Regions from separate parts of the Homo sapiens genome. Here region 1 is linked to region 2. The links come from fine-mapping of genetic effects on gene expression. A gene starts in region 2. The other region holds a variant in brackets. All regions are shown on one strand. Distances are from middle to middle.

Region 1 (16,351 bases), 120 kb before region 2:
CCAGCCTGGGTGACACAGCAAGACTCCATCTCAAAAATAAATAAATAAATAAATAAATAAATAAATAAATAAATAAATAAATAGAGTTTGCAGAATTCTGAGTAGCTCTGTGCCCCATTGCTCCCCCTCCACATCTGGCCAAGACTTGGATCTTCTGAGGTTTCCTCCCCTTCTTCTACCCCTACCCATCTCTCCTGTCATGACGCCAGAGCTCACATTCAAATCTTCCTTTGCCCTGGCCTGCTCATGTTGCCCTTTGCTTTTTTTAAAAAAATTGAAATGTTCCTCCTGTCATGTGCTATTCTTTATTTGCTCAAAGTATTCGACATTACTGTGAAATGTCACTGGCTGGGCAATTTCCTCCTGAGCGCTTTGGCTTATCTTCTCTGACTAAATGGAATAAACCTGTTCAAATCAGTATTTTTACATATTGCTCATCCAATATTGTACAGGAAAAATACTAATATGGGGCCAGGTGTGGTGGCTCACGTCTGTAATCCTAGCACTTTGGGAGGCCAAGGCAGGCAGATTACGAGGTCAGGAGATCAAGACCATCCTGGCTAACATGGTGAAACCCTGACTCTACTAAAAGTACAAAAAAAAAAAAAAGGGAAAATACTAATATGGGGCTAGGCATGGTTGTTCATACCTGTAATGCCAGTGCTTTGGAAGGCTGAAGTGGGAGGATCACTTGAGTCCAGGAGTTCGAGACCAGCTGGGCAACATATTGAGACCCCTGTCTCTACGAAAACCAAAAAAAAAAAAAAAAAAAAAATGAGCCAGGCATAGTGGTGCATGCCTGTAGTCCTTGCTACCGAGTAGGCTAAGGAGGAAGGATTGCTTGAGCTCAGGAGTTCGAGGCTGCAGTGAGCTATGATTTCGCCACTGCACTCCAGCCTGCAATGGCCTGAATTTCCTGTTCAGATCTTTTATGAACCAAATACTACACAACTGTAGTCATGATCTTCTTGGCTGGAGAGAGGCTGGCTGTCACCCAGGGCCACAGGGTGATTAGGTAGAATGAAAAGAGAGTCACCAACTCAAGACAGTAGCACAGTGTCCTTGTGGTTTTGGCTGGTGTAGTCTAAAATCTGAATTATGCAAAGTGTATTTGATCTTGCATCACATCAGGAAAAAGCCCAGTAATCTATTTCATCATGGGGTGTGGAGAAGTTGCTGGAACCATTTCTAGACACAGATTTTGGTTCTCCAGAGGCCAGCAAGTTAGCTTCACTAAGCTTCGGGGCCCACAGTGGGAAGAGATGTCCTGCTGAGGCTCAGCGTTGACTTCACTCTTGTGGAGCAAAGCTGTAGGAACTAAGGGCTTTATGCTAATTAAAAGATGAGGCCAGGTGCAGTGGCTCATACCTGTAATGGGGTCTTGCTATATTGCCCAGGCTGGTCTCGAACTCCTGGGTTCAAGCCATCCTCCCACCTCAGCCTCCTGAATCACTGGGATTAAAAGTGTGAGCCACTGTGCCCAGCCTCCCTTTTAATAGAACTGGTGCTTAATCCACAGCTCTCCTGTCAGCCCACAGTTCTTGAATTTTGGCCTCTTTTATGTCCACATGAATGTAAATATACTTCAGAATTTCCACCCAGAATCTTTGGAATCTAATTTCTTCAATCATTTTACTTTAGAGTCATTTTTAGGGTAAGTGAATCTGCCTGGTTTTCAACTTGACACCCTCTCTAAACGTGAATGAGTTCAAATCATATTCGTTCCTGAGGAATCACACTCAAGCATAGTACAAATCTGTGGGATATGCCATTACAACTCTAGGAATCATGTTCTCAAGGTAAAAGCCTTTAAGAAAAGCTGTCTTGACATATCATGTAAGCATGACAATGGAATACTAAACCAACATAGCTGAGATTTTCCTTATGTCCTATGCTTTTAAATGATCAACCCTACAGTCCTGGAACCAACCTTTATGGTTATCAATACCTCCATTATTTTAAACTATCTCAGGTATCATATTCCTTCTTTTTTTTTTTTTTTTGAGACGGAGCCTCTCACTGTCACCCAGGCTGGAGTGCAGTGGCGCAATCTCGGCTCATTGCAAGCTCCACCTCCAATGGAATACTAAATCAACATAGCTGAGATTTTCCTTATGTCCTATGCTTTTAAATGATCAACCCTACAGTCCTGGAACCAACCTTTATGGTTATCAATACCTCCATTATTTTAAACTATCTCAGGTATCATATTCCTTCTTTTTTTTTTTTTTTTTGAGACGGAGCCTCTCACTGTCACCCAGGCTGGAGTGCAGGGGCGCAATCTCGGCTCATTGCAAGCTCCACCTCCAATGGAATACTAAATCAACATAGCTGAGATTTTCCTTATGTCCTATGCTTTTAAATGATCAACCCTACAGTCCTGGAACCAACCTTTATGGTTATCAATACCTCCATTATTTTAAACTATCTCAGGTATCATATTCCTTCTTTTTTTTTTTTTTTTGAGACGGAGCCTCTCACTGTCACCCAGGCTGGAGTGCAGTGGCGCAATCTCGGCTCATTGCAAGCTCCACCTCCTGGGTTCACGCCATTCTCCTGCCTCAGCCTCCCGAGTAGCTGGGACTACAGGCACCCGCCACGACCCCCGGCTAATTTTTTGTATTTTTAGTAGTGCCGGGGTTTCACCATGTTAACCAGGATGGTCTCGATCTCCTGACCTCGTGATCCACCCGCCTCGGCCTCCCAAAGTGCTAGGTTTACAGGTGTGAGCCACCATGCCTAGCTTTCCTTCTTATATGTATCAAAACTCATACTGAAAAATGAGTTCTGGGTTACAAAAGAGGGTTTATTTTTTGCACCTGCCTTTGAATCAGTCCTTAAGCTTAACCTTTAACTTCCAAGGAACTACTTTTTTTTTTTTTTTTTTTTAGATAGAGTCTCGCTCTGTCACCCAGGCTGGAGTGCAATGATGCAATCTCGGCTCACTGCAACCTTCGTCTCTTGGGTTCAAGTGATTCTCCTGTCTCAGCCTCCTGAGTAGCTGGGATTGCAGGCATGTGCCACCATGCCCTGCTAACTTTTGTATTTTTTGTAGAGACAGGGTTTCTCCATGCTGGTCAGGCTGGTCACGAACTCCTGACCTCAGGTGATCCACCTGCCTCAGCCTCCCAAAGTGCTGGGATTACAGGCATGAGCCACCGTGCCAGGCCCCATCCCTGGTTATTCTTATTCAGTAAAATTTGCAACCTCCTAGGAAGAAAGGATTTTGAAAACAAAACTCTTTTTTAAAACTTTTATTTTAGGTTTGGGGGTACGTGTGAAGATTTGTTACATAGGTAAACATGTGTCATCGTGGTTTGTTGTATATATTATTTCATCACCCAGGTATTAAGCCCAGTACCCAACAGTTGTCTTTTCTGCTCCTCTCCCTCCTCCCACCCTCAAGCAGACCCCAGTGTCTGTTGTTTCCTTCTTTGTGTTCATAAGTTCTCATCATTTAGCTCCCACTTATAAGTGAGAACGTGTGGTATTTGGTGTTCTGTTGCTGCATTAGTTTGCTAAGGATTATAGACTCCAGCTTCATCCATATTCCCTCAAAAGACATGATCTTGTTCTTTTTTATGGCTGCATAATATTTCATGGTGTATATGTACCACAGTTTCTTTAGCCAATCTGTCACTGATGGGCATTTAAGTTGGTTCCATGTCTTCACTGTTGGGAGCAAGCCCCCCAAAATCTGGCCATAATCTGGCCCCAAGACTGGTCATAAACAAAATCTCTGCAGCACTGTAACATGTTCATAATGGCCCTAACGCCCAAGCTGGAAGGTTGTGGGTTTACAGGAATGAAGGAATGAGGGCAAGGAACACTTGGCCTGCCCAGGGCGGAAAACCGCTTAAACGCATTCTCAAGCTGCAAACAATAGCATGAGCGATCTGTGTCTTAAGGACGTGTTCCTGCTGCAGTTAACTAGCCCAACCTATTCCTTTAATTTGGCCCATCCCTTTGTTTCTCATAATGGATACTTTTAGTTAATTTAATATCTACAGAAACAATGATAATAACTGGTTTGCTGTTACTAAATATGTGGGTAAATCTCTGTTTGGGGCTCTCAGTTCTGAAGGCTGTGAGACCCCTGATTTCCCACTTCACACCTCTATATTTCTGTGTGTGCATCTTTAACTCCTCTAGCGCCGCTGGGTTAGGGTCTCCCCAACCGAGCTGGTCTCGGCACTTCAGTATTGTAAATAGTGCTGCAATGAACACTCATGTGGATGTGTCTTTGTTTTTTTTTTTTTTGGAGACGGAGTCTAGCTCTGTCACCCGGGCTGGAGTACAGTGGTGCAATCTTGGCTCACTACAACCTCTGCCACCTGGGTTTAAATGATTCTCCTGCCTGGGCCTCCTGAGTAGCTGGGATTACAGGTGTGAGCCACTGTGCCCAGCTAACTTTTGTATTTTTAGTAGAGCCCAGGGTTTCATCATGTTGGCCAGGCTGGTCTTGAACTCCTGACCTCAGGTGATCTGCCTGCCTTGGCATCCCAAAGTGCTGGGATTACAGGCATGAGCTACCACGCCTGGCCCATGTGTCTTTATGGTAGAATGCTTTATGTTCCTCTGGGTATATACTCAGTAATGGGATTGCTGGGTCGAATGGTAGTTCTGCTTTTAGCTCTTTGAGGAATCGCCATATTGCTTCCCACAATGATTGAACTAATTTACATTCCCAGCAACAATGTGAAAATGTTCCCTTTTCTCTGCAACCTTGCCAGCATCTGTCATTTTTTGACTTTTTAATAATAGCCATTCTGACTGGTATGAGATGGTATCTCATTGTGGTTTTGATTTGCATTTCCCTAATGACCAGTGATGTTGAGTTTTTTCATATGTCTGTTGGCCGCCTGTATGTCTTCTTTTGGGAACTGTCTGTTCCTCTCCTTTGCCCACTTTTTCATGGGGTTGTTTGTTTTTCTCTCATAAATTTGTTTAAGTTCCTTATAGATGCTAGCTATTAGACCTTTGTCAGATGCACAGTTTGCAAATAAAACAAAACTCTTAATGTCTTCACTTGCCAGATATTTGTGCTTAGGTTGGTGTTTGAGTCTTAGGAGTAATATCATGTTTTGCCACAAGAAGGAGCCTATGAGTGGGCTGGAAGAGAAAAATCAGATTTGCAGCCGCTGAAGTCAGTAAACAGTTTCTTTGGATATATTGTAAATAGTAAGAGAACCAGACATGACATTCATAAGTATTCCAAAACCAAGTAAAATTATTTTAAAGCTCTAACGTTTTGCAACTTTTCTTCCCGTCTTAAGAGTTCATCTGCCCAGTCTAATGATTGTAGAATTCTTACTTCTAGTCTTTTTTTTTTTTTTTTGAGATGGAGTTTCACTCTTGCTGCCCAGGCTGGAGTGCAATGGTGCTATCTTGGCTCACTGCAACCTTCGCCTCCTGGGTTCAAGCCATTCTCCTGCCTCAGCTTCCCGAGCAGCCACAATTTCAGGGATGCGCCACCACACCCGGCTAATTTTGTATTTTTAGTAGAGTTGGGGTTTCTCCATGTTGGTCAGGCTGGTCTCGAACTTCTGACCTCAGGTGATCTGCCCACCTTGGCCTCCTAAAGCGCTGGGATTACAGGAGTGAGCCACTGTGCCTGGCCATCATTTATCTTACTTTTAGCATCCTCATCCCAAATTCCTGGTGTCCCCATCCCTACCATCCATTTGTAATAATTCTCCATTGTTTTCCTCTCCTTGAATCCCACTTTCTGAGATCAGTGCAACCTGGGCTTAGAGCTTCAACCTCCTCCATCTGATTTTTTAAAAGAGTAACTCCTAATAAGGATTTTACCCAATATAGTGAGCATTATGATTAATGACCCTGACTCTACAAAAAATAATTTAAAAAAATTAGTCAGGTGTGGTGGCGCATGCCTGTAGTCCCAGATACTCAGGGTGAGGTGGGAGGATTGCTTGAGTCCAGGAGTTTGAGATCACGGTGAGCTGTACTGCATCATCACATTCCAGCCTGGGCAACAGAGTGAGACCCTGTTTCTAAAACAATTAAGGTAAAATAAAAGAAATAACATGCACCTGGTACACAGTACTTAATAAATCCCGTCTACTGTAAATACCTAGTGCCCATCATCCCTGTAACTCATAACTTCTTCTTTCCCAGTTCCCCGTGCTTTAATCACTCCTGCTTAGGAGACAGTCCAGGCTACCTTCTTATCTCTCTTCCTGGAGCCAGATTCTCAGCATTTTGTTCTCTAATTCCACCCTTTACCCCTTATTGCATGCCTTGGTATCAGCACTTCACCTGGTCTGAGGAACCAGCATCTAGTCTTGCCCTGTGTCTGGTAGTCCATATGGCCTGTATGTATCACTTAGTCTGAGTCAGTTTCCACGTGTGTCAGCTGGATTAGTAGCTCCTTAGGGTTCCGTGTAGTTCTCACAGTCTGTGGCAAGGAAAACAACAATTTGTGAGTAGCTAGCATGGACTGCAAACTATGGGCTCTATTTACCAAGCAAGTTCTAAATGCTGAACATTGTCTTTGGCAAAGGGGTTTCAGGGAAGATCAAGAGGCACATCTTCCCTGCCCTCAGGAAACTCATATAGGCTGGTTTTGCTACACTGAATTCTCACAACTCATTGATGCAATGCAGCCTAGAATTAAGTTACTTGCTCATTGTCAAGCAGGTAGTGACTAGCAGAGCCACCATCCTGATTCTTTCTTAGTTTCTTTTTTTTTTTTTTGAGTTAGGGTCTCGCTCTGTCACTCAGGCTGGAGTGCAGTGGTGCCATCATAGCTCACTGCAGTCTCACTCCTGGGCTCAAGCGATCTTCCTGCCTCAGCCTCCTAAGCAGCAGGGACTGCAGGTGCACACCACCATGCCCAGCTAATTTTTAAATTTTTGTAGAGGTGGGAATCTTGCTCTTTTGCCCAGTCCGGTCTGGAACTCCTGGCCTCAAGCATCCTCCTGCCTTGGCTTCTCAAAGCACTGGAATTACAAGCATGAGCCACCATGTCCAGCCCTAAGTCTGATACCTTCTAAGAGGGATCATCCTCAGATGAGTTGGGTGTGGAGGTGAGAGGTCAGGGGTGCCTGGATAAGAAGTGACTCTGCTATCACTTCCTGTGTGAGCTGAGGCCTGGAGAGAAGATGAGAGAATGATGGGGAAGGAGGAAGCAGATGTGTTGTGGGGTTGGGAAATGGGGAAATGTCTGTGCATTTCTACTTTTACCTTTGATCTCTCCTTCAGGGCTTTGATATTTTCTTCCTGCTAATCCTCCTTTTCACACCTGCTTGGGGCTGCCCCATGAGCTTGTGAAAACAGCATGTTTCTACCTTCCAACCACAGTCCTCAGTGCATTGGCCCTCTCTCTCCTTGGCAGAGTCTACGATGTTTTTCAAGGTTACCATGAAGATTTCTTTCTTTTTTATTTAATTTTAATTTTATTTTTTTTTGAGATGGAGTTTCGCTCTTGTTGCTCAGGCTGGAGTGCAATGGCACGATCTCAGCTCACTGCAACCTCTGCCTCCCGGGTTCAAGCGATTCTCCTGCTTCAGCCTCCCAAGTAGCTGGGATTACAGGCATGTGCCACCATACCTGGCTAATTTTGTGTTTTTAGTACAGACAAGGTTTTTCCATGTTGGTCAGGCTGGTCTTGAACTCCTGACCTCAGGTAAGCCACCTGCCTTGGCCTCCCAAAGTGCTGGGATTACAGGCAGGAGCCACTGTGCTTGGCTTTATTTTATTTTTTAAGTTCCTGGGTACAAGTGTAGGATGTACAGGTTTGTTACATAGGTAAACGTGTGCCATGGTGGTTTGCTGCACGTATCAACCCATCACCTAGGTGTTAAACCCTGCATGCATTAGCTCTTTTTCCTAATGCTCTCCCCTAACCTACATCCTCCCCTGACAGGACCCAGTGTGTGTTGTTCCCCTCCCTGTGTCCATGTGTTCTCATTGTTCAGCTCCCAGTTATAAGTGAGAACATGCAGTGTTTGGTTTTCTATTCCTGCGTTAGTTTGCTGGGGATAATGGTTTTCCAGCTTCATCCATGTCCCTGCAAAGGACATGATCTCATTATTTTTTATGACTGCATAGTATTCCATGGTGTATATGTAGCATATTTTCTTTATTCAGTCTATCATCGATGAGCACTTGGGTTGATTCCATGTCTTTGCTATTGTGAATAGTGCTGCAATGAACATATATGTGCATGTATCTTTATAATAGAATTATTTATATTCCTTTGAGGTATATACCCAGTAATGGAATTGCTGGGTCAAATGGAATTTCTGGTTCTAAATCTTTGAGGAATCGCCACACTGTCTTCCACAATGGTTGAATTAATTCACATTCCCACAAGATTTCTTTCCTGACTTTCTGAACTTGGATCTTCTCCTATCCTCCATCCCCACCACCTGGCTCCAGGATCCCAGAGACTCAGCCTTCCTGCATTCAAAACCATAGTGGAAGAAGGCCTGATTGCTGGGGTGGGCAGTGGCCTGAAACCTGGGGAGGACTTCACTGGGCCTAAACATTCTGGTGTAGAGAAAGTCACTAAGTAAGGACTTGTGAAAATGTAGAGGACTTTGCGGTGGGGGTGAACTGCAGAGTCCTACTGTGGGGCAGCAAGAAGTCAAGAAGGAGGACCTGGCAACTGGGGTCAAGAGCTGCCCACATGCTCTTCATGTCCAGCCTTTTTTCTCCTGTCAGCTTTCTAGTGTTGCATGCTCATATGGGCAGAAAGACTTGCCATTATATGCTAGAAAGCACATGGTGGAGGCTGGGCGCGGTGGCTCACTCCTGTAATCCCAGCACTTCAGGAGGCTGAGGTGGGTGGATCACCTGAGGTCAGGAGTTTGAGACCAGCCTGGCCAACATGGTGAAACCCCATCTCTACTAAAATACAAAAAATTAGCTGGGCGTGGTGGCAGGCACCTGTAATCCCAGCTACTCGGGAGGCTGAGGCGGGAGAATCACTTGAACCTGGGAGGCAGAGGTTGCAGTGAGCTGAGATGGCACCACTGCACTCCAGCCTGGGTGACAGAGCTAGACTCTGTCTCCAAAATAAAAAAAAAAAAAAGAAAGAAAGAAAGTACAGGAAGGAGAATTTATTAGAAAATTCAGGCAGCCTGGGCAACATAGTGAGACCACGGCGCTACAAAAGAATACAAAAAAAAAAAAAAAAAAAAAGGCTGGGCGCAGTGGCTCAAGCCTGTAATCCCAGCACTGTGGGAGGCTGAGGAGGGTGGATCATGAGGTCAGGAGATCGAGACCATCCTGGCTAACACAGTGAAACCCCATCTCTACTAAAAATACAAAAAAAAAATTAGCTAGGCATGGTGGTGGGCGCCTGTAGTCCTAGCTACTCGGGAGGCTGAGGCAGGAGAATGACGTCAACCTGGGAGCGGAGCTTGCAGTGAGCTGAGATCACGCCACTGGACTCCAGCCTGGGTGACAGAGCTAGACTCCGTCTCAAAACAAACAAACAAACAAAAAAAAACCACACAAAAAAACAAAAAAAATTAGCCAAGCATGGTGGTGTACACCTGTTGTCCCAGCTACTCAGGAGGCTGAGGTGGGAGGATCACTTGAGCCTGGAGGTTGAGGTTGCAGTGACCTAAGATCGTGCTACTGCACTCCAGCCTGGATGATAAAGTGAGACCCTGTTTCACAAAGAAAAAGAAAAAGAGTTAAAAAAATCCAGGCATGAACAGGAAGGGATGAGCATGGAATAAAACCAGGATGCTGCCTCCGTACCACCAGTTCTTTGATTTCAACTTGTTGCTCAGTTGAATCATTGCCATACTGGTGAGAAAGAAATGTATTTGCTGACTGTTGGTCAATATTACAGATTTAAAACCTGTGCACTCTTAAGACCTCACCAGTTTATAGTTTTGTTTCTTCCAGATTTCTGCGGAAAGATGGGCCCAAGGCTGGCTTTGCTCCCTTTTCTCTAGGTCACACAGTATCCTAGGCCCTGTGCTGTTATATTTGACTCTGTGGAAGATGCTTTGTTTTCAGTTCTGAGCCTTTTCTTCTGCTGATTCCTTCTCAACCTTTGTTCCTTGTGTCGCTCACCCTCCCCCAAACCAGGTAGATGCACCCAGGTGTGGAAAAGAGGGAGGGAGAAGAAAGATCCCTTCTGTCATTGATACAGGAGCTAGAAAAAAATTATTTAGGCAGATAGTGAGGGTAAGAGAGTCCGTGGTAAGATTTCCCTTTAATGAAAAGCAGCCCCCAAATAATTTCTTTTCTAACAATAAGCAGCCTGAAAAATTAAGCTGCAAGCATAGATAAGCAAGCTAAAAGCTTGCATAGGTAAATGCCAACAGCTGTGCCAATAGAAAAGGGACACCTGGAAGCCAGGTATATTCAACATGGAGGTGCCCTCTTCCCTTTCCTTTGTCAACACGCTTGCAGTAAAAAAGCAGGCAACGTGGTGATGGCCAAGTAGAGACCCCATCTGCATAATAAAAGGTTAAGGTGAGATGGCCAACTTGTTGGTGCGCTATGCAAATGGCACACCTGGTCTGACTAATCTCTCGGGCCCTATGTAAATCAGACACTGCCTCCTCAAGCTTGTCTATAAAACCCCCCCCCCGTGCATTTCACCACAAAACCGGAAGACCCACTCGGAAGTCCCTCTCTCTCTGCAGGAGAGAGAGCTTTTCTTTTTTCTCTTTCTTTTGCCTATTAAACCTCCAATCTTAAACTCCTCCTTGTGCGTCTCCACCTTCTTGATTTCCTTGGCGTGAGGCAATGAATCTTGGGTATTACTCCAGACAAATGACGCCACTTCATCATCGTTCTTGGGGCACAGAGGTGCTGAGCTTCCACATTTCTCTTCGCTCCCTACTCTTGGGTGAGCCCTTCACCCTGGGTACCCTGTTGCCCCAGGCCTTGGCACGTGTTGTCAACGTATGGCTGTGGGAGGAGGCTGGTCTTGTCTGGTGGGAAGGAGAGAGACAAAGAGGGCATTGTTGATAGAAGAAGTGGAATGAGAGCTCCCTTTACCCTTGGGGGCTTCTTTTCTGGCATTAATCCTCAGAAAATAATTGTGAAAGAGAAGTTTGTCTTTGTGCTTTAGGGTGCTGTCAGAAGCTTAGAAATAATTAGGCAGAATCCCCATCCCCCCAATCCCCATCACCAACTTTAGTCTCCTCCCCCGATACCCACACTGACCCAGGGTTAGGGACATTTATAAATGGAGCCATTGAGGACTCAGGAGAAACTCATGCAACTGAAAAATGTCCCCTATTTCCTGGGTCCTAGGCAGCTCCCCACTTTCCACTCCCACTTCAGACATTTAGACAAGGACTTTGGTCACTCTGGCTAGACCATCTGTGTAACCCAGAATGGTGGGGTCACAACTCTTGGTTTCCAAGGATATAATCACATGTTGTGAGCAAAAATGTGCTGAACACACCTGACTCTGTGGCTTCTTCTTGAGAAGTGATTTTGCAGAGCGGGGAAGGGTCGACTCTGGAAACGTTTCATTTGTCTATTGGCCATTTGGATTTCTTCTGTGAAGTGCCTTTTCATGACTATCATCTATATTCTCTTAAGTTTGTCCTTGTTATTGATTTGTAGTTCTTTATATATCCCTGATAACAAGGCTTGCTTTTTCATGCTCTTTATATATATTTTTAAAAGCAGCTTTAGCAAAGTGTAACATACAAAAATCTGCACATAAAATGTAAAATGTGATGTTTTGACATATATATATAT[G/ATG]CACTGAAACCATCCCTATTAATTCCATTGTGATCAAAGACATATATTGTATCACTTAAATCCTTTTACATGTATCCAGGCTTATTTTATGGTGTAGAACATGATCTATCTTGGTAGATGTTCTGTGTGCTCTTGACAAGAATGTATTGTTGCGTAGAATGTTCTATTGTCAATTTTGTTGATTAGGTCAATTTGGCTTATAGTATTGTTCAAGCCTTCTATTTGTTTACTGATTTTCTGTCTACTTGTCCTATCAATTTTTGAGAGATGGGTGTTGGCTCCTTAACTATTTTGTGAATTTGTCTATTTCTCCATGTATTTCTATTAATTTTTGCTGTACGTATTTTGAAGCTCTGTTATTACGTGTGTAAACATTTAGGATTTGATAAATGGACTCATTTGTAACAATCAAATATCTTCTTTATCTCTGGTAATATTTTTTGCTCTGAAATCTACTTTGATATTAATATAGTCACTGTAGGTTACTTTTGATTAGTGTCAGCATGGTATATTTTCCATTATTTTACTTTTAACCTTGTACCTTTATAATTAAAGTGAGTTATCTTTGGGCAGCATACTGTTAGGTCTTGCTTTGTAAGTTAATATGTTAATCTCTGCCTATAAATTGGAATGGTTAGATCATTTATATTTAATGTGATGATTTGTATGGTTAGGTTTAAACCTCTCATGTTGCTATTTGTTTTCTATTTGTGCCATTTGTTTGATCTGTTCCCCCTTTCCTCTTTTTCTACCTTCTGTTGGATTGAGCATATATTTATATATAATTTTATTTTTACCTCCATGTTTGTATTATTAACTATAACCCTTTTTGGGTTATTTTAGGCTTATGGTTTATATCTTCATGTTATTAGTCTACTTCAATTGATATTATAGCACTCTTCACACATTGTAAGAACCTTACAGTATACTCCCATTTCTTCCCTCCTGGCTTTTATATAATTGTTACCATATATCTTACCTCAATATATGCTATAAACCCCATAATACATTGTTATCTTTTCGCTTTAAGTGAAAGATTATCTTTGTCTTTATCTTTAGAGATAAAGTGGGGAAGGGTTGACTCTGGAAACGTTTCATTTGTCCATTGGCCATTTGGATTTCTTCTGTGAAGTGCCTTTTCACGACTATCATCTATATTCTCTTAAGTTTGTCCTTGTTAATTATCTTTATCAATTATCTTTAAAACGATTTAAATAATAACAAAAATAATCTTTATATTTACCCTCATAGTTACCACTTCTGGTGTTCTTTATTCTCTAACGTAGATCCAGGTTTCTATCTGGTTTCAAATTCTTCTAGCTCAAAGGACTTCCTTTACCATTTATCATGGTGCATATATGTTTTTTCATTCACTCTGGAGATGAATTCTTCCAACTGTTATATATCTTAAAAAGTTTTAATTTTTGCCTCAGCTTTTGAAAAAAAATATTTTTGAGATAGGGTCTCCCTCTGTCACCCAGGCTGGAGTGCAGTGATGTGATCATAGCTTACTGCAACCTCCACCTCCCAGGCTCAAGCTGTCCTCCCACCTCAGCCTCCCAAGTAGCTGGACTACAGGCGTGTGCCACCACACCTGGATAATTTTTGTATTTTTTTGTTTGTAGAGACGGGGTTTCACCATGTTGCCCAGGCTGGTCTTGAATTCCCAAGCTTAAGCAATCTGCCCACTTCAGCCTCCCAAAGTGCTAAGATTACAGGTGTAAGCCACCGTACCTGGCCTGAAAAATATTTTTGCTGGGTATATAATTCTACATTGGCAATTTATTCCTTTGATTACTTTAAACATGTTTTTCCACTGTCTTCTAGCTTATATTGTTTCCAACAAGAAAGCTACTGTCATTCTTATCTACTGTTGGTGCCCTGTCTAGATGTCCTTTTCTGGGCTGGCATGCCCACTCACAGGCTGTTGTTAATGGTGGCTATTATTGGCTCATGAACTCTCTCCTTTTCTAAATAGATGGCTTGGCCGGGCATGGTGGCTCACGCCTGTAATCGCAGCACTTTGGGAGGCCAAGGCAGGCGGATCACGAGGTCAGGAGATCGAGACCATCCTGACTAACACGGTGAAACTCTGTCTCTACTAAAAAGACAAACAACTAGCCGGGCATGGTGGCAGGCGCCTGTAGTCCCAGCTACTCGGGAGGCTGAGGCAGGAGAATGGCGTGAACCCGGGAGGCGGAGCTTGCAGTGAGCCGAGATCATGCCACTGCACTCCAGCCTAGGTGACAGAGTGAGACTCCATCTCAAACAAAAAAAATAAAAATAAAAAAAAGAGATGGCTTCACCCGGGATAATATGATTTCTTCCTCTCCCCGATGGCATCCCAATGCCAATGACTGAATGTTATTGGAGTACAAAAGAACAGCCCTTTTACCTCAAGTGGATAAAATCTGTGGTATGATTTATGCTTCAGGGTCCCCTGTGGACAAGATCAAGTTCAAACCTTACCTGAGATCACATTTGGCACAGTTTTTTTTTTTTTTACATTACCTTTTCTGCTTCCTCTATTTCCTTAGAGATTTTTACTGGTGAGTCCAACCTAAAAAATCACATGTATTCAAGTCTCTTTTAAGTTCTGCTTCTAAGGAATCAAACCTAAGACAGTGGGTACCAGGAGCGGTCCTAGGAAGCACAACATAAGAATGGGATTCTAGGGCTGGGTTACTTGTCAGCCCTCTGGCAAGGGGGACAGCCATGTTGATGGCAGGCATAGTTTCTGACTTGCTTTAGCAGTGCAAGTGTTAAGACTTTTACTCGGAATAACTAGGCTAGGACACAGGTGGAATTAGATTCACTGGCTGATGTAATGTGTCTGGCATTTAAGAGATATAAGACAAATTGCAAGTATAAGGGCTATGGAGCCAGGTGTGGTGGCTCACGCCTGTAATCTTAGCACTTTGGGAGGCTGAGGCAGGTGGATCATCTGAGGTCAGGAGTTCAAGACCAGCCTGGCCAACATGGTGAAACCCCATCTCTACTAAAAAGTCAAAAATTAGCCAGGCATGGTGGTGGGCACCTGGAATCCCAGCTACTCGGGAGGCTGGGGCAGGAGAATCACTTGGCGGAGGTTGCAGTGAACTGAGATCACGCCATTGCACTCCAGCCTGGGTGACAAGAGTGAGACTCTGTCTCAAAAATAAAATAAAACAAAACAAAATAAAATAAAATAAAGGACTATGGAATTAGGTGGCTATTACTGAGCTTCAGTGATGCCTTAAAGAGAAAAAAATGAAAGGCTCAGGACAATAAGTAATCAATTTAAAGCAAAATATAAGAGTTACAATGCCTTCTTGGCAACATTTAAAGAGACCCTTATCTCTCGTTGCCTGAAGGCAGAGAGACCAGGCTGAATATTTAACTTTAAGAGTGGCATAACTACAGAGAAGTTCAAATTTTTCAGCCTAGGGAAGTTTCTAGTACCAAAACCAGGACCTCAATAGGAAAGAATAAGACCCTGAGACATGGGATGGTGATATTAGATAGATGCCCTTTGAGGTCCTTGGATCATCAGATTATTCTGGACCATTTGGACCTGCAGAAGTGGCTCACACTTTTTATTGGAAGATAGAGGCCCACTCTTGCTTGAAAACCTTGCAAAAGTCTTACACTAGACAAATTCATTGTAAGGAAATGCTGGCTCCCCTCAGGATGTGTTGCACCTCCCCCTTTGGCCACTAGACCCATAACAAAAATCAAATCTTAGCATGGCCCAACTGGGGAAGTACTTGACTTACTAAGGAGAGGGATGGATTAGATACTAAAGGAGCTTCAAGACTTGGACAACATGTGTCATCAGGAGCAAGGAAAATAAATCAGAGAGAAGATTCTGAAGATCCTGGATCAAAGGGAGGGGACTAAAAATAGAAAGCTGGATGTAGGAGTTTGTCAATATAGGGCATTCTTATGGGACACAGGATTTAACACCCTAGCAAGTTTATTCTTAGGAGGTTGATATGAAATGATACTGGGGTGGCTTTTGGAAAGCTGGAAAACAACAAGAGCTTCTATTAATAAAGTTGAGATGTCAGAACTCATATGGAAAATTGTGAGTAAAGGGTTCACAGTTCTCAGAGAAATGGATGTGGGAGAATAGATCTATAACAAAAGATTGGAAAATCCACCACCAGACTCTATTCCTTGGGAAGTCCTGGATAATACTCATTTTCACCAAAGAAATAATGAATGTGCTGGTGATGAGGAGTTTAGAAGCTGTAAGAATCTCAGTAGTGTTCATCCTCTGTAGACGGAGGCTGACAGCAGATGCCCTTATATACTGGATATACTGGTTCCCTAATAGCAATAGGAATGATAGGATTCTGAATCAGCAGAAGCTATTTGGCAGCACTTAATAATCAGAAGCAAAGTAGTTATTATTATTATAATAATCAGGAAGGTTGAAATTATGGCCAAAGGGCCTTGACCTTCAGGGATCTGTGGAGATGGCTAATAGAAAATAGTGTTTCCATGGAGAAAATATACGGTTGCAAATGCATCACATTTGCTATCAACAAACTCCAAGTAGGATAAACTCAAAGACATCCATACTTAGGTACATGATGATCAAACTGTCAAAAGTCAAAGACCAGATAAAACAACAACAACTTAAGAGAGAATCTTGAAAGTA
Region 2 (16,351 bases):
CAGACAGCACTATTAAGAGTTGATAGGCAAGGAGCAGGCCTTAGAATTCCACTACTGATTGTCAAAAAGACTAGAAGAACTCAGATGTGTCCAACCCCACAATTCTGGGTTCATAAGTCATTCTATAAGCATTTTGATCAGCCGGTGCCCGAGCTTCCCCCATCAACCAAAAACTTATTTGCTCAACTAGCTGAAAACATAGCTGGCAGCTTAGGAATTTCCTCATGCTATGTATGTGGAGGAACTAATATGGGGGACCAGTGGCCATGGGAGGCAAAGGAATTAATGCCACAAAATAACTTCACTTCGCTTAACCCTACCAGTGAACCAACAGCCTCAACCAGTGTTTGGTTGTTAAAAACCTCCATAATTGGAAAGTACTGTATTGCCCAATGAGGAAAGGCTTTCACAGGGGCAGTAGGAGAAACAATCTGCCTAGGGCAACAGTATTATGATGAGACTAAAAACAAAACTCTATTGAAGAAATGCCCAGAACAACTCCTACTTACAAGATCAAAACCCTTTCCCTCCACTGTCTATTCTAAGCCGCACTTGGCATCGGCTAGAGGCTCCAAATGCTTAGAAAGCACCCTCTGGCCTATATTGGACCTGTGGAGCACAGGCATATCAGCTGCTGACTAAATGGACAGGGGAATGTGTGTTAGAAACAATCAAGCCATCCTTCTTTCTAATTCCTCTAAAGCCAGGGGAACTCTTAGGATATCCAGTTTATGATGAAAATAAAAGAACTAGAAGAGGCATAATCACAAAAATAAACACAAATATCAAAAAAGATGTGGACATAGGAGACTGGAAAGATAACAAATGGCCTCCTGAAAGAATCATTAAATACTATAGGCCAGCTACCTAGGTGCAAGAAAGGTCATGGGGGTACCGTACCCCCATCTATATGCTCAACTGCATCATAAGGTTGCGGGCAGTCCTTGAAATTATAACCAATAAAACATCAAGGGCACTAGATTTATTGGCAATACAAGCAACACAAATGAGAAATGCTATATATCAAAATAGGCTGGCTTTAGATTTCCTCTTAGCCTCAGAAGGAAGAGTATGTGAAAAATTTAATTTAACCAATTGTTGCTTAGAAATCGATGATAATGGCCTAGCTGTCATGAAAATCACAGCTAGAATGTGCAAGATGGCACATGTTCTAGTTCAGACTTGGTCCAGGTGGTCCCTGGATTCCTTATTTGGAGGATGGTTGTCAGCCTTTGGAGAATTCAAAACCCTCATTAGTGAGTTCTTGCTTATTTTTGGCATTTGCCTCATCCTCCCTTGCCTTTTACCCCTGTTTATTAGGAGTATTCAGTCAACTATAGAGGCAATAGTAGCCTGACACGCTACCGCACAGTTGTGGCATTAACCAGATATCAGCTGCTGCCGGTAGAAGAAAAAGCTCAGCTCCGCGAGGAGGTGGCAAATAGTGGTGCTTTCTATTAACACTTCTGTTGTAAAAAGCACCAAAGGGGACAATGGAACAGGAATTAAAAGAAATTAAAGAGTGCGTAAGCAGAAACTGAGTTGTATATGAAAAAAACCCAACTTCCCCTGAAAAAGAGAAAGAGCTGGAGTCTTTTAAAAACTAACTGCCTGTTTTTCTGAGGCTAGTGAGCCTTATCTCTCCTCCCTTCCCAGGCATTGCAAAGACCCTGTTTCCCTAGCTGTGCAGCTGCAAGGTCACTAGACAGATAAACTCAAGTCACAAAACGTGTTTTTCCTTGAAATGTAAGAAATGATGTAATGCATTTCTCAATTGAATAACTGTGTTTGTTTCTTACTTCTCTAGTATGCTTCCCTCTCCACAGATCTCCCCCCTCCCACGAAATGCTTAAAAGGTAACTAAACTCTTTGTTCAGAGCTCAGTCCTCTGGATGTTAATCCGACTGGGCTGGTGCACCTAAATAATTAATAAATATCCTCCTGAACCCCATCAGTCTCTCTGATTCCTTAAAATCCCACTACATTTCAATCCTCATCTTTTTTGCTGCCTCCTCTGTGAGACCCCAAAAAGTCACAATGATTAACTAAAAGCAGCTGAAGTCTGCATGATCCCAGTGCTAGAGTGAATGCTTAATAAATGTTCCCAAATTTGAGTGCCCTTAAGAGGTTCAGACTGGAATTCTTCCAGGGCATTTCATTCACGTATGTCTATTTAGTTAATTGATTCTTTCCTGATTTGGAAATTCTCTTTCTAGGTGTATTAGTCCATTTTCACACTGCTATAAAGAACTACCTGAGACTGGGTAATTTATAAAGAAAAGAGGCTTAATTGACTCACAGTTCTCCATGGCTGGGGAGGCCTCAGGAAACTTAAAATCATGGTGGAAGGTGAAGGGGAAGCAAAGCATGTATTACATGGAGGCAGGAGAGAGAGAAAGACAGAGAGAGAGAGAAGAGGTGTCACACTTTTTTTTTCTTGTTTTGTTGTTTTGTTTTTTTTTCTATTATTATTATACTTTAAGTTTTAGGGTACATGTGCACAACGTGCAGGTTTGTTACATATGTATATATGTGCCATGTTGGTGTGCTGCACCCATTAACTCATCATTTAGCATTAGGTATATCTCCTAATGCTATCCCTCCCCCCTCCCCCCACCCCACAACAGTCCCCGGTGTGTGATGTTCCCCTTCCTGTGTCCATGTGTTCTCATTGTTCAATTCCCACCTATGAGTGAGAACATGCGGTGTTTGGTCGAGGTGCCACACTTTTAAAACCATCAGATCTTGTGAGAATTCATTCACTATCATGAGAACAGCATGGGTGAAAACACCCCTATGATCCAATTCCTCCCACCAGGTCCCTTCCTTGACACATAGGGATAACAATTCAAGATGAGATTTGGCTGGGGACACAGAGCCAAACCATATCACTAGGTGAGGTTTTTTTTTTTTATCTTTTGAACTAATAATGAGTTTGTGTATCACTACATCCATTGAATTACAGAGGGTTACTGAGGCCCTTTGCTGACACCTTCTTTCCTGTTTTCTCAGAGGTGTTTATGCTTTTCCTTCCCTCTAAACACTGACCTTGTTTTAGGATCTGGCCATCCTTAAACATTCCTGCACAGAGGAGCTCTGGAAGAATCATAGTGTTCTTATTTCTATGGAATGACAACCATATTCAAGGCTTCCACTGGCTTCATAGAAATGTGAGCACCTTCCAGCTACACCCAAATCTCTGTGGTCAGATGATTTGATTGATATAAACTACAGTAAATGTGATTGACCTATATGTTCTCTGAATGGCACTATGCAGAGGAACCAATGACTAAAGAATAAATTTCAAGGCCATTCCTCCTCTTGTGCAATCTGGCCCTCCAACTGGTGATCCTTACTTGATAAGCACAATGCCAGTCATGCTCACTTTTTTTTTTTCTCAAAATGATCAGTCACACAGAGTCAGTTTACTGCTTCTGTACATCAACTATCCTGCAGGAAAACCCATTAAGTCTGGTGCTCCTTATGGCAGGCCTGCCTGCAACTCATCTTTGATGGGTTATGTGTGAACTCCATCAATTGCAGGTTCTGGATCCTTGCAGAACTTCCCACTCTGGTGTTACTGAGGGATGGAAGACTGGAGGAAAAAGAGAGGCTGCATCCCGCCGATGTAACCATGCAACTGCTGGTGCCACAAAGTAGGCCCTATAAGGGTAAGTTAGGAAAGTGTGGCTGAAAATTATGGTATGCATAAATAGTTTTAAATGCCCCTTATGTGCTTTCAGCTGAAAGAGAGGTCTTCCAAAATTCAGGAACATTTCTGTTGATAGAAAAGTTTCACTGTGCTACATAGCATAAGTAACCATAAAATATTCCAGACAGTTGAATTAGAAACTTGATTTCTCTTCTTTATAGGTTAGCTTTTCTTAGATCCTAAATATTCAGTACAAATAAATAAATCTTATAAAATGTGATAAAGCTGAAAAATTGCATGAAGAGAATGTGTTTGAAGGACCCCACAGTGGCACCCTGGCCAGGCCCAGCTGTTAGCTTGGTTCCCTCTTTGGGGATCTTTTCCTACTCACACATCGAAAATAACCTCTTGGGTTTCCAGTTGTTTATAATCCATTATCTGCCCATGCTAAATTCTGGTTGTTAGTCTAGGTAGATCAAAACTCATAGTCAATCAGAAAGCATCCCCAGGATTGAATGATGTCAGTAAACACTCTTAGTAACAGAAATTGGAAGTTGAATGAAGAGGAGGTGGATAATGTTTATTTACTTCTTCAACGGATCTGTGTAACATCTGTAGGGTCAAGAGAACATTCCTCTATGGAGGTTTGATATTTGAGTCTGAGAAATGAACTAACAGTAGATCAATTAATAGGAGATAATCCTTATAAATTTATCTCATGAATATGCATGGGAGCCTTGAAAGATATGATACTCAAAGAATGGCCTGATGATTGAAGCTTAAATAGCATTCTGAGCTATAAAAATGTAGTATCTTCTGATGGGGAGTGGGTGACACAAGACATGAGAGAGTGAGGGAAGAAAAAGCATGATAAACAAAAGTCATCTTATTATAATGTCTGTCAGGCATCAGTGCTCCAAAGAACAAGTATTATCAACCTTAGTCTCCCTTTCTGTGAGCTAATATTATTTTTTTCTTTTTTTTTTCTTTTAGACTAAGTTTTGCTCTTGTTGTTCAGGCTAGAGTGCAATGGCGCAATCTTGGCTCACTGCAACCTCTGCCTCCAGGGTTCAGGCGATTCTCCTGCCTCAGCCTCCCGAGTAGCTGGGATTGCAGGCACCTGCCACCACACCCAGCTAATTTTTGTATATTTAGTAGAGACAGGGTTTCATCATGTTGACCAGGCTGGTCTTGAACTTCTGACCTCACGTGATCCACCCACCTCGGCTTTCCAAAGTGCTGGAATTACAGGTATGAGCCACCATGCCTGGCCCTGCTAAGATTCTTTTTCATGAGATTATAGGGAGGGGGCTCAAGACCATTGCTTTTTTTTAGGAGGATCTTCCTTTAGGTATGAGAACTTCAGAGAAAGCCCCTTCCTATATTTTGGGAGAAATAGCAGGGTTGGGAGACAGGAGAACATAAGAGTTAGCTTGGTTCTGAAGACTTTCTGAGACCTTTCAATTTCCTTTGGTTCAAAGTCCTCAACATGCTTAAGTGCCATATTTTGGGGTTTCATTTTTGGAGCCCCAACTTTCCCCTGTCATAAACTTCCCTAGAAAATGTACATACTAAAGCTGAGTTGATGCTTGTGGAGAGGACAATTGAATTGGTAGCTGAGTCGCAAGGAATCACATTAAACCAGTATAAACCAGTCTCACATTCCTAGCAATGTCAATCCAGTTAAACAGCTGTGCCTCATTTCAGGAGGTGATGTTGCAGGTCTGCTGTCATGAAAGATAGGTCTGTATATGGTGCAGTTAAACAGGTACTTAATAAGAGGTCATTCTACCAAAGCAAAAGGAGACCAAAAGTTAATCATTTAGCAGACTAGTTTCTGAGTTCACAGGGCAGCCAGACAAAAAGATTTCTACATGTTGGTTTTGAAACAGCTCCAGTTGGAGTAGAGGTAGGCAATGGTGATCTGACAGATTTTTTTTCTCTCCTATAGCTCCTTAGGGCCAGATCTGAAAGACTTTAAGTTGTTGCAATTTCTCTGGAGTCTGCTCTATCACAAAGAATTCTGCAAAAATCACATTTCCTGCCTTTGTGGACCAAACCAATGTATTTCTTAAATGTATTTGATATCTCATGCCTCCCTAAAAGAATAAAACCAAGCTGCACCCTGACCACCTTGGGTACATGTTCTTAAGACCTCCTGAAGGCTGTGTCATGGGCCATGGTCACTCATATTTGGCCCAGAATAAATCTCTTCAAGTATTGTACAGAGTTTGGCTCTTTTTGTTGGCAGCATGTATTAACTCATTCTCTATTACAATTCCCCTGTCTTGATGAATGGGCTCTGTTGAGGCAGGGGGCAAGGTGAATCTCTTGGGTGGTTACAGTGAAAATCCATACAAAATTTTACATGCATATGTGCTGGAGGCCCACAATATATGAGACTAAAATAAGGACTGAATGAGTAAAGCTTAAATAGCATTGTAAGCTAAAAAGTAGGGAGTGGCTTCTGATAGGGAGTTTCTGACACAAGTTATGGGAAGGTGAAGGGAGAAAACACATGATGAACAAAGGTTATTTTATTGTGGAGATAAAGTCTCTCAGGTAGCAGTGCTCCAAAGAATAAGTATTATCAAACTTTTTCTCTTTTCCTGTGAATTAGTTTTCTGATTGATGAGATTATTTGGAGAGGCTCAAGACAATTGCATTCTTTTTGGAAGATCTTCCCTTAGTCAGATAAGAGAACTTCAGAGCAACCCTGCACTTCAGGAGGGAAAGAATGGGGGATGGGTAGACAGAAGAGGGTCAGAGATTCTGAAGACATTTGTGAAGTCTTTCAGTCTTCTTTAGTTCAAACTACTCAGTATGACAAAGTTTTATTTTTTTTTTTGAGACGGAGTCTTGCTCTGTCACCCAGGCTGGAATGCAGTGGTGCAATCTCCGCTCACTGAAACCTCTGCCTCCTGGGTTCAAGCGATTCTCCTGCCTCAGCCTCCCAAGTAGCTGGGATTACAGGTGTGTGCCACCATGCCTGACTAATTTTTGTATTTTTAGTAGAGAAGGGGTTTCACCATGTTGGTCTGGCTGGTCTTGAACTCCTGACCTTGTGATTGGCCTGCCTCCACCTCCCAAGTGCTGAGATTACAGGTGTGAGCCACCGCACCCAGACTAAATTTTACATTTTCAAATGTTGTATTAGGAGTCCTAACATATTAATAATATTTTATGTGTTCACAGTATTTGGCACTTAGGTAACTTCCCCTCCGTTATCTCTTTTATCTTCAAAACAAATAAGAAAAAGATGGGCCCAATTAGCACTTCAGGTCTTAGAGTTAAGAGCAAACATGCCTGCATAGTTACTCACATATAGAGGAGTACCAGGCTGGTAGCCACAAGAACCCATGTTTCCATGGCAAAGTTTGGAATGAGATCCATCACCAGTTTTCTTTTTCAGCTCTGTCTTCTGAGTTTTTCTTTCAGCTGTGTGCTGCTCTTTGCTGGGCTGTGCATATAGAGCTTTGTTTCTCTGCCCAGAGGTGATTTAGTTAATGTTAACAGCGATATTTATGTGCTGGAGAAGGAGGTGGGTCTACAGCGGCAGCCAGTAGAAAAGCCACTTATGCTACTCCTCATATGGAGGGATTTGGGTACCCTTTTCAAATTGACAATTGGCAAATAATTATGGCTGTCCTTATTTTGGCCTCCTTTGATTTCCTATTCTGTGAACAATCAGTAAACAAATCAGTCACTGCTATTGGTAAGCCCAAAGGTTATAGATTCTCAGGAACCTAAAGAAAAATACTTCTGCAAGAACATCTGCCCAGCAACTGCCTGTCCAACCTCAAACTGATGTCAGTCTTGTTATTGATCTTTATAGCCAAGGATAATCATTCCAAAACAAATATGTAATCCTTCTCATTATTTTTTTAAACTTTGTCTTACTTTACCTACCTGAATAAGCACATAGTTTACCTTGGCACGCATATTCCCATTGCAATGCTTTATTCCCAAATAAAAATAATTCTTTTTAGAAAGCCTATCTCTGTTTGTTATCTAGGTTGCCAAATCATGCCTCCAGGTAAACAGACAAGAAGGACTCCCTGTGCCTCAAAAGCAAAAACAAACCCAAGAGGCCATGGCAGGTTTAGGTGATGGTCATGTTCTCTGTGTTCTTAGTAAGTGTTGCAAAACCTATTTTTCTGTAGCCAAGTCAAATAACATTTTCTGAAAAAATCTGTACCTGGGAATTTTCCAACTGCTCACCAACAGATCATGTGGTAAGAACTAACTGACCACCTAGGAACAGCCAATTAAGAGACATGTGACTTGGGGCTTAAAGGCTGTCTAATCAAGACTCTTTTCTTCACTCCTCTGACTCCTCTATCCTGCTCTGTGGTTTTTGACTTTATAGCTCTCCACCTCCGAGGCTGCATCTCCTCAATCTGCAGACTGTGTTTTATAGAAAATGAAGCTCTCCCTCTGTCCTCCACAGATCCCACAATCTTTACTCATATTTCCTGGTGATGAGGAAGGGATCAAAATTGGCTCTCAAGATCCTCTCCCTTGTCATCTGGACTAATCAATGCATTGGCACCAGCAAGAGTCCTCTAAGCTCAGTTATCTTCCTGGCCTGGCTGTTTTGTGGAAAAATCAGTAAATCCTCTTACATCCAAGATCTCACATTTAGGATGAGGTCTTGAGGTCTTTATTTTTTTCAGGGAACCTGCCCTTCTGGCTCTATGGCTACCCACTTGTGGGGTATGCTTGCACTTGGAGGGGCATGCCCATGTTTCTTGGGGTGCATTCATGCTGCATCAAGCAAGTTCATGCCTCACAGGATACTCCATGCTTCAGTGTTGCAAGGACTATCGCATTTTATTTGCCCTTGAAGGGACCCCTTCCTAAGGTGAGGGCTATGCATAACCTAGGTCCTAAGGCCATGGTCTCTAAGGCCTGCCATCGGGTAATTCGGTGGCTCTGTCTCTGATCAATCACTATCAGGTACTCTGGCAGTTTTTCAAGTTTAAAATTTAAAGGTAAAGGCTCGACAGAAATGGATGTGAGAGATACACCTAAATTGAACTCCGAAGCATGCAATGAGGATAAGAGGAGTCTGGACTTCTCAAAGACAGTAAGAGGCTTTCTTTCAATCTGCATTTTTGAAAGTTTCAAACACAATTGGGACTTTGGCTGTGTTTTACTAGGAGACTAACCTGAAGAGTTAACCCATGTCTCAGAAAATCTGAAAAACTTGAAGACCCTAAAATGGAGAGTCCCATATCTTCCTGCTGCTGCACTTGCATTCTACCTCCACTTTTCCCTTTTTACCATCACTGTCTTTGTCTGGAACATTGCAGGGACCTGGCAACTTGGTACCAGCAGGGGCCATTGAGCCCCTGGCTCCTTCATGATGATTGAAAACTGGGTGGGTCTCTCATGAGTTTTGGACTTCCCACTTGATTGACAGCTGTCAGTTTTGTTCAGCTAGTTGTTCTTACCCCTGGATAAAAGGGGGTGAAAGAAAGTCTCTTTCTTTGAGACTTACTGTTTCTCAAGAAGGGGGAATCACTCTGTATTTCTCCTCCATAAACATATGAATGAATATGTATGCTATTTCTCCCATTAATCTCCTTTGTGGGTGATTTTTTTTGTTGTTAACAAACCTTCAGAGGAGAAAGGACAAACATTTTTCTTGGCCTCAGCAGTTCTGTCCCTATGAGCAGGATACCAAAGCCACTCTGTTCTTTCAGAAGCCTCAGTGAAGGGAGCCCAAGCACTTGTAAGTCAGCAGAAAAGTAAGAATTTCTTTTTTTTTCTTTTTCTTTTTTTGACAGAGTCTCATTTTATTACCCAGGCTGGAATGTAGTGGTGTGATCTTGGCTCACTGCAATCTCCGCCTCCTGGGCTCAAGTGATCCTTCTATCTCAGTCTCCCAAGTAGCTGGGACTACAGGCACATGCCTCCATGTCTGGCTGAGAAAAGTAAGAATTTCTTTCCAGACAAGCTCCTGGCCTTTCTTTCTGGGAGATCCACTTGGGCAGATGTTAAGAATTGCTCTTTGTCTCCTCTGCAAAATCTTAATAAATAGGAGAAAAGGATTTGTGTTACTAGTGCTGGGTGCAGCAACTCTAGGGTACTCTCTAGTACTTTCTCTTATGAATACTCACATCGTTTGATCCCCTTTTCCTCTAGAAATAGTCTTTTCCTTTGTTCCTGTATTTCTGTGCTGTTCTGTCATAAAAGGGGCTACAGGAGTGTAGAACATGGGCCTGAAACCCCTATAAGCCCACTTGTTGGAGCTGGCTCTGCGGACTGAGCAGCTGGTGCTTCTGAAGAACACACCTGTTGTTCTACACATGTCCAGCTCTCGGGGGAGTTTCTCTTAAGAAGCCCCATCCCTATGGGTCTTTTGCTTCCCTAACCCTTGTGACTTGGTTAGTCCTGGGAAAGTCCAATCCCCGGAGAACCTACCCAGTGTCACATATCAACAGGCCTGAACTTACTGGTTTTGGTGTCACTCAAAAGGGTACCTTCAGTTTTAAAAAATCAAAGCCTAAAATGTTTATAAAGGATAGATCCTCAGGTAAAATAGACTGACTTCTTTTTCAGAATTATTCATAGTACAGCCAAACATTAAAATGCTTTCTTTGGCTAGGTAAGGAGGCTCACGCCTGTAATCCCAGCACTTTGGGAGGCTGAGGCAGGTGACTCACTTGAGGCCGGGAGTTCAATATCAGCCTGGCCAACATGATGAAACCCCATGTCTATTAAAAATACAAACATTAGCTGGGCATGGTAGCGCATGCCTGTAATACCAGCTACTGGGGTGGCTGAGGTGATCCAGAGGATCACCTGAGCCCGAGAGGCAGAGGTTGCAGTGAGCTGACATCACACCACTGCACTCCAGCCTGGGAGACAGAGATAGACTGTTTCAAAAAAGAGGGAAAAAAAGCTTTCATCACTCTATTTAAGAGCTCCATCCTGAATTCAGTAATCTAATCAAGAAATTTCCATAAAAAGATAAGAAAATTATGGAGAAGACATCACAATAATGTTATAGGATCCTTGAGGTGTTGCTTTTATGGCCTAAAACCTCTGGCCAGTGGCACCTTTGCCCAAGTTTTGCTCGGACTTGCTGGGCTTCTTCCACCCACTTGGGTTGGCAAGCTGCACACAGTCCACACTACCAGCCTGGATCCCATGCCTGCCAAGGGTGAGTTAGGAATGGAGCCATGAGGGGTGTGTGAATGAATGTGGGGTCAGGCCACTGCACAGTCAGACACTACAGCCGCTGCAGTGACAGGCAGCTCCAGGTGCCGGCACAGGCACTGGCTCTCTGTGAGGCTGTGGCTGGACCAGGTGCACTGCAAGCAGTTTCCCCAGCCAGCACTGGGGAATGCAGTGGTTACTGCAAACTTGGAGACACCAGGCACTGCAGGATACCAAAGAGTCACAACCCTGTTTTGGGGAGCTTCCAGGTCTGGGCTCCCTGAAGGACTGTGGCTCTTCTCTCCTTCTCTTTGCCTGCAACGTGGTGAGCAAGGGGCATGTTTCAGCCCTGTTTATGTTATAGCTGTTTTACCTCTGCCATTCAGTGGGTCCTGAGTTCTTGTCCTTCGACCAGGAAGAATGAGGTATGCAGACAGGTGGAGGGAAAGCAAGATGAAGAGGAGCATTATTGAGCAATAGAACAGCTCACAGGAGACCCACAAAGGGTAGCTACTTTCCACAGTCAGGGTGTCCCGATCAGTGTTCAGCTCCTGGCAGAGAAGACACCCTGGGTTGGGAGGCTCCTCTCTTCAGGTAGGTCATCCTGTCATCTCTGCAGCTCTCAGCAGAGAGGGGGTTTTGGAGTGGGTTGCTCCTCTCTGCAGCTGGTAGTCTGCATGTCTCTGCGGGTCTCTGAGGCTCTCAGCAGAGAGGAGGCCCTAGAGTGGGTAGCCCCTCTCTGCTGCTGGTTGTCTAAATGTCTCTTGCTATCAGCAGAGAGGGTAGCTCATTTCTGCAGCTGGTCCACCTGATGTCTGCTCAGCTCTAGCAGAGCCTGGGGCTTTTATGGGCCCTAGAGGGGAGGAAGTGTGCACTGATCGGTCCTTGGGCAGCCATGGAAGGGCTGGAAAAAGAATCACAACTTCCCAGTCTGGTCAATGGGATTGGCAGCCCAGCCACCAGCCTTCAGGCCCTCCCTGACCTGAAGGTGGGGCCTCACTGGGGACCCACCTACTTCTACCTGGGAATCTGTCTGCCTCCTGCTTCCATTCTTGGCACCAGGGCTCAGCCTCACTTTGCTATGAGATTGGAGAGGGTGCTGACAGCAGGGAGAAGCCAGGGAGCAGGAGCAGGCACTTTGGAGCCTGTGAGGGTAGGGGGGCCTTCCTGGGCCCCCAAGAGTGCAGGGATGCCTGAGTCTGCAGCTGGTGGGTGGCTGCAGCTGTGCAGGGTAGGGGGGATGGGGGTGAGGAAAGGTGGGGTGGGTTGTAGGGGTGGGTGAGGGAGGATTTCTGCCTGCTCCATGGAGCTGGAGGCCTGGGTCTGCAGCTGTGGTTTGGGTGGCTGCAGCAGCACCCAGGGAGCTCCTGCCCCAACTTGGGCAGGGCTCCATGGAGTGTGCAGCCCCGCCCACCTCCCTGCTGCAGCCAGCGTAATGGCAGTGGCAGGCTGTCTGGAGCAGCCACTGCCATCAATAACCTTTGTACACTTGTTCCCAGTTATAGAATTTATGCAAATAGATCTATAAAAATAAATGTACTGACCACTTTAGGACAAATATTAGAGAGACCACAAGAAACTTTGCAGGACAACCAGAGTCTCTAAATTTCTTAGCTTAAATGGTTTTAACAAAATGCTCAAGTTTTATACAGCTAATTGCTACAAGTCTGTAACTAAAACCTAGATTATAGTAGCTCAGTGCATATAACTTACAGATAAGTCTATTTTGTAACCTTGCCTTTCATGACAAAAGTCTTTTGACTTTTGTTTTTTGGCTCTTATATTACTTAAAAAAGATTTTAAGGATTGATGAATGCCTTCCCACCTCTATTCCTGTCTGGCCTAGAACATATAAATCAGCGATTAGTCTTTTGGCTTTAAGTCCTTTGGCCATAAGAGCCCCATGGAGGGACAGGGTGGACTTGGGGCAGACAGCCACACCATTACAGCAATGATGAGACCAAATAAAAGTCTGCCATTGATGTTGGCTCTGGAAAATCTTGGCCCAAATAAAGGAGAATGTAAACCAAAAACAAAATCCCAAGCCCCCTCCACCAAATAAACAGACCCACCGTTGGCTAAGTGGACCCCAGAGGAACCTGAAAAACTGAATTCCAGGGCATGAGGAAAAGGGAGGTCCAGCATGCCTCATTATACCCCCTCCATTGCTCACTGTCATTAGACCTTCTTTCCTAAAGGTGAAAAAGAAAGCAGCCCCTTCAAAAGATTCCACACCAATATTGTCAGTTATGAGCTTATCCTTCCAGGTACAGGGTAAGGATAAGATGAGATTAATCCTTCCCTCACCCTTCCCTGAGATATCTACTTCCTCTATTACTTTTTCTTTAAATGTTCACCTTATCATATGACAAGGCACTAACTAAAGTCTCACAAGTATGTAATCACTCATCTCATAACACCCCCCCACCATTTTAAAGGAAAATGTATAAATATTAAATCTCTGAGAACCTCTTTGGAAAAAAACCAGCCACAGATGCATGTGTGACTTACATTTTTCCTGGGCATGCACTTAAGCTGGCTCAATAATCCTCGGTGATTGAGACTTATGCTTCAGTCACTCATTTTGGTGAAGGTTGAGATGACAAAAGCCCTCATGGACTTGAGCCTCTTAAGACTAACTCCCCTAAGAGCTGGCATGGTCAGACAAAGAGAATGCTACTTTCTACTTCATGTCATGGGTCCCTGGCCTTTTTGACTAGCAGCCAGATGGGAACCAAAAATCAGACCCCCAGGTAACAGAGACCAGAGAGAGATGTTCTCACTTGGCAACAAAGCCAATTTCTCAGGACATACAAATAGACAAAAGGAAGATCTCATTTGATTTTTTTCTGAGAGATACACTGCAAAGTTTGCCTAAACAGATGCTGGTCTGCTGAGAAATATGAAGTCACCAGTCTGCTTGGTGGGCTTAAATGACAGGCTTATAAAAAGACCTTATGCCCATGTTCTGCCCTACAATTCTCCTCTTTCTGACAAATGACAACAAGACAAAGGAAAGCAAAGACCATCTCTGAAGGGGCAGGGACCAGAAATGCAGAATACTCATAGCAAAAATAAAAACACTAGATGTATACCAAGAACAAGTTTACAAAAAGGTTTTCTACTACTAATCTAAGTTTGGAAAGAAACATGAGACTAGTAGTGATATTACCACTTGTTCAACCTGGTTCCACAAGCAGAGATCCAGGAGACAGACTGGGTAAGGATTCCTACCTTTCTCCAGCTTCATCAGGTCTCAGGGTCTCTCAACTGTAGCTTCAGAAGCTGCGGAGTGACTTTATCTCCTGGTTGTCTCACCAAAACTGTAGGAGGTGGGGAGAGAAAACTTCAGTTCCTCTGGAGGCTTAATGTTTGAGTCTGAGAACCTGACAATGGATTGATTAACAGCACCTGTCATCTCAGTTACTCGGGAGGCTGAGGCGGGAGGATGATTTGAGCCCTCAGGAGGCTGAGGTGGGAGGATGATTTGAGCCCAGTTGTTCTAGGCTGCAGTGAGCTATGATTGCATCACTGCACTCCAGCCTGGGTCACAGAGCCAGACTCTGTCTCAAAAAAAATGCATACACATTTATGAAATGCATACACACTGGAGACTCACAATATATAAGACTAAATAATGACCAGGTGGTTGAAGCTTAAATAGCATTGTGACTTACTAAAAATTTAAAGACTTCTGGTGGGGAGTTGGTGACACAAGCTATGGAAGGATAGGGGAGAAAATGCATGATGAACAAAGGTTATTTTATTATGGAGATAAAGTGTGTCAGGTAGCAGTGCTCCAAAGAATAAGTATTATCAACTTTCTACTTCTTTCCTGTAAGTTAATATTCTGTTTGTTGATATTATTTGGAGGTGCTAAAGACAATTGCATTCTTTCTGGCAGGTCTTTCCTTAGTCAGATAAAGGAACTTCAGAGAAAGCCCCTCTCTGCACTTTTGGAGGGAAAGTATGGGAGGCAGGAGAAGGTCAGAGAGACCTTAGTTCTGAGGCCATTTCTGAGATCCTCCAGTCCCCTTTAGTTCAAAGTACTCAGCTTGCCACAGTGTCCTATTTTCAAGTGTTTTCTTCTGAGCCCCAACAGATCAGTAATGATAATTTATGTTTGTAGCATTCAATGCTTAAGCAACTTCCCCTCCATTATGTCTTTCATCTTCAAAACAAATAAGAAAAATAGGCCTGATTAGCACTAAAAGTCTAAAGTTACAGAGCAGATGGCCTGGACAGTTATTCACAGGTAGAGGAGCACCAGGCTGGTAGCCAGGAGAACACACATTTCCATGGCAAAGTTTGGAATGAGATCCATCGCATTTTCTTTTTCAAATCTATCTTCTGAGTTTTTCTTTCAGCTGTGTGCCGCTTTTGGCTGGGCTGTGCATGTAGAGCTTTCTTTCTCTGCCCAGAGGTGATTTAGTTAAGGTTAACAGGAATATTTATGTGCTGGGGAATGAGTTGGGTCCATAGCTGCAGCCAGTAGAAAAGCTACCTATGCTGCTCCTCATGTGGAGGGATTGGGGTGCTCTTCTCACATTCACAGTTGGTGAAGAATTATGGCCACCCTTATTTTGACCTCCTTTGACTTTATATTGTGTGATATCAGTAAACTAATCAGTGTTTGATAAGCCCCAAGAGTTATAGATTCTTATCAGAAACTCTTGTGAAGTCATTGGCATTCAATCTCTAACCAGCCCTTATCTTCATGGCTGCCTTCAATCCAAAATACTTCAAATCCATCAAAATAATGCACACATACACATCTTTATCCAGGAAGTTTCCACTGCCTAGAATTTCTCTATACTCCCTAGAAGACTACTATTCATCCTTTCAAACCCAGATCAGATAGACTTCTTTTTAAGTTTTTATTCATTTATGTTTCTTTTTTTCCCACGCAATATACCTATGTTAGCCTGTACATGCATTGCTATAAAGAAGTACCTGAGTCTGGGTAGTTTATAAAGAAAACAGGTTTAATTGGTTCACGATTCTGCAGGCTATACAGGAAGCATGACTGGGGAGGTCTCAGGAAACTTACAATCATGGTGCGAAGGCACATCTTATATTGACCAGAGAAGGAGGAGGGAGAGAGAGAAGAGGGAGCTGCTACACACTTTTAAACAACCAGATCTCATGAGAATTCACTCACTATCATGAGAACAGCAAGGGATAAGTCTGACCCCATGACACCCAATCACCTCCCACCAGACCCCTCCTCCAACATTGAGGATTACAATTTGACATGAGATTTGGGTGGGGTCACAAATCCAAACCACATCAATACCCATATAATAATTTGTTTTATTTATTTTTTTGAGACACACTCTCACTCTGTTGCCTAGGCTAGAGTGCAGTGGCACAATCATAGCTCACTGTAACCTCAAACTCCCAGGCTCAAGCGATCCTCCTGCCTTAGTCTCTGGAGTAGCTGAGGATACAGGTATGCATCAGCACACCTAGCTAATTTTATTTTTTTATTTTTATTTTTGTAGAGACTGTGTGTCTATGTTTCCGAGGCTG

Which allele goes with the higher level. Positions count from the first base shown, and alleles are read on the strand shown. Sizes are in standard deviations (SD) of each study's normalised expression.
For the expression in skeletal muscle of the gene that starts at base 7,148 in region 2, allele ATG in region 1 goes with a higher level than allele G (large effect, 1.1 SD a copy in GTEx).

Evidence for each region.
Region 1: its variant is fine-mapped to the expression of CYP3A43 in skeletal muscle (GTEx, PIP above 0.99).

What each region holds. Positions count from the first base shown.
Region 1 is chr7:99,938,549-99,954,899 of GRCh38, reverse strand. LOC124900245 (small nucleolar RNA SNORA40) reads right to left here and starts at 2,867; the gene lies at 2,742-2,867. RefSeq lists enhancers at 8,374-9,229, 10,087-10,942. The variant G/ATG (reference allele first, on the strand shown) is at 11,707.
Region 2 is chr7:99,818,810-99,835,160 of GRCh38, reverse strand. CYP3A43 (cytochrome P450 family 3 subfamily A member 43) reads right to left here and starts at 7,148. Exons shown (of 13, transcript NM_057095.3): 1 at 6,975-7,148. The coding sequence starts at 7,045. It also overlaps the pseudogene CYP3A137P.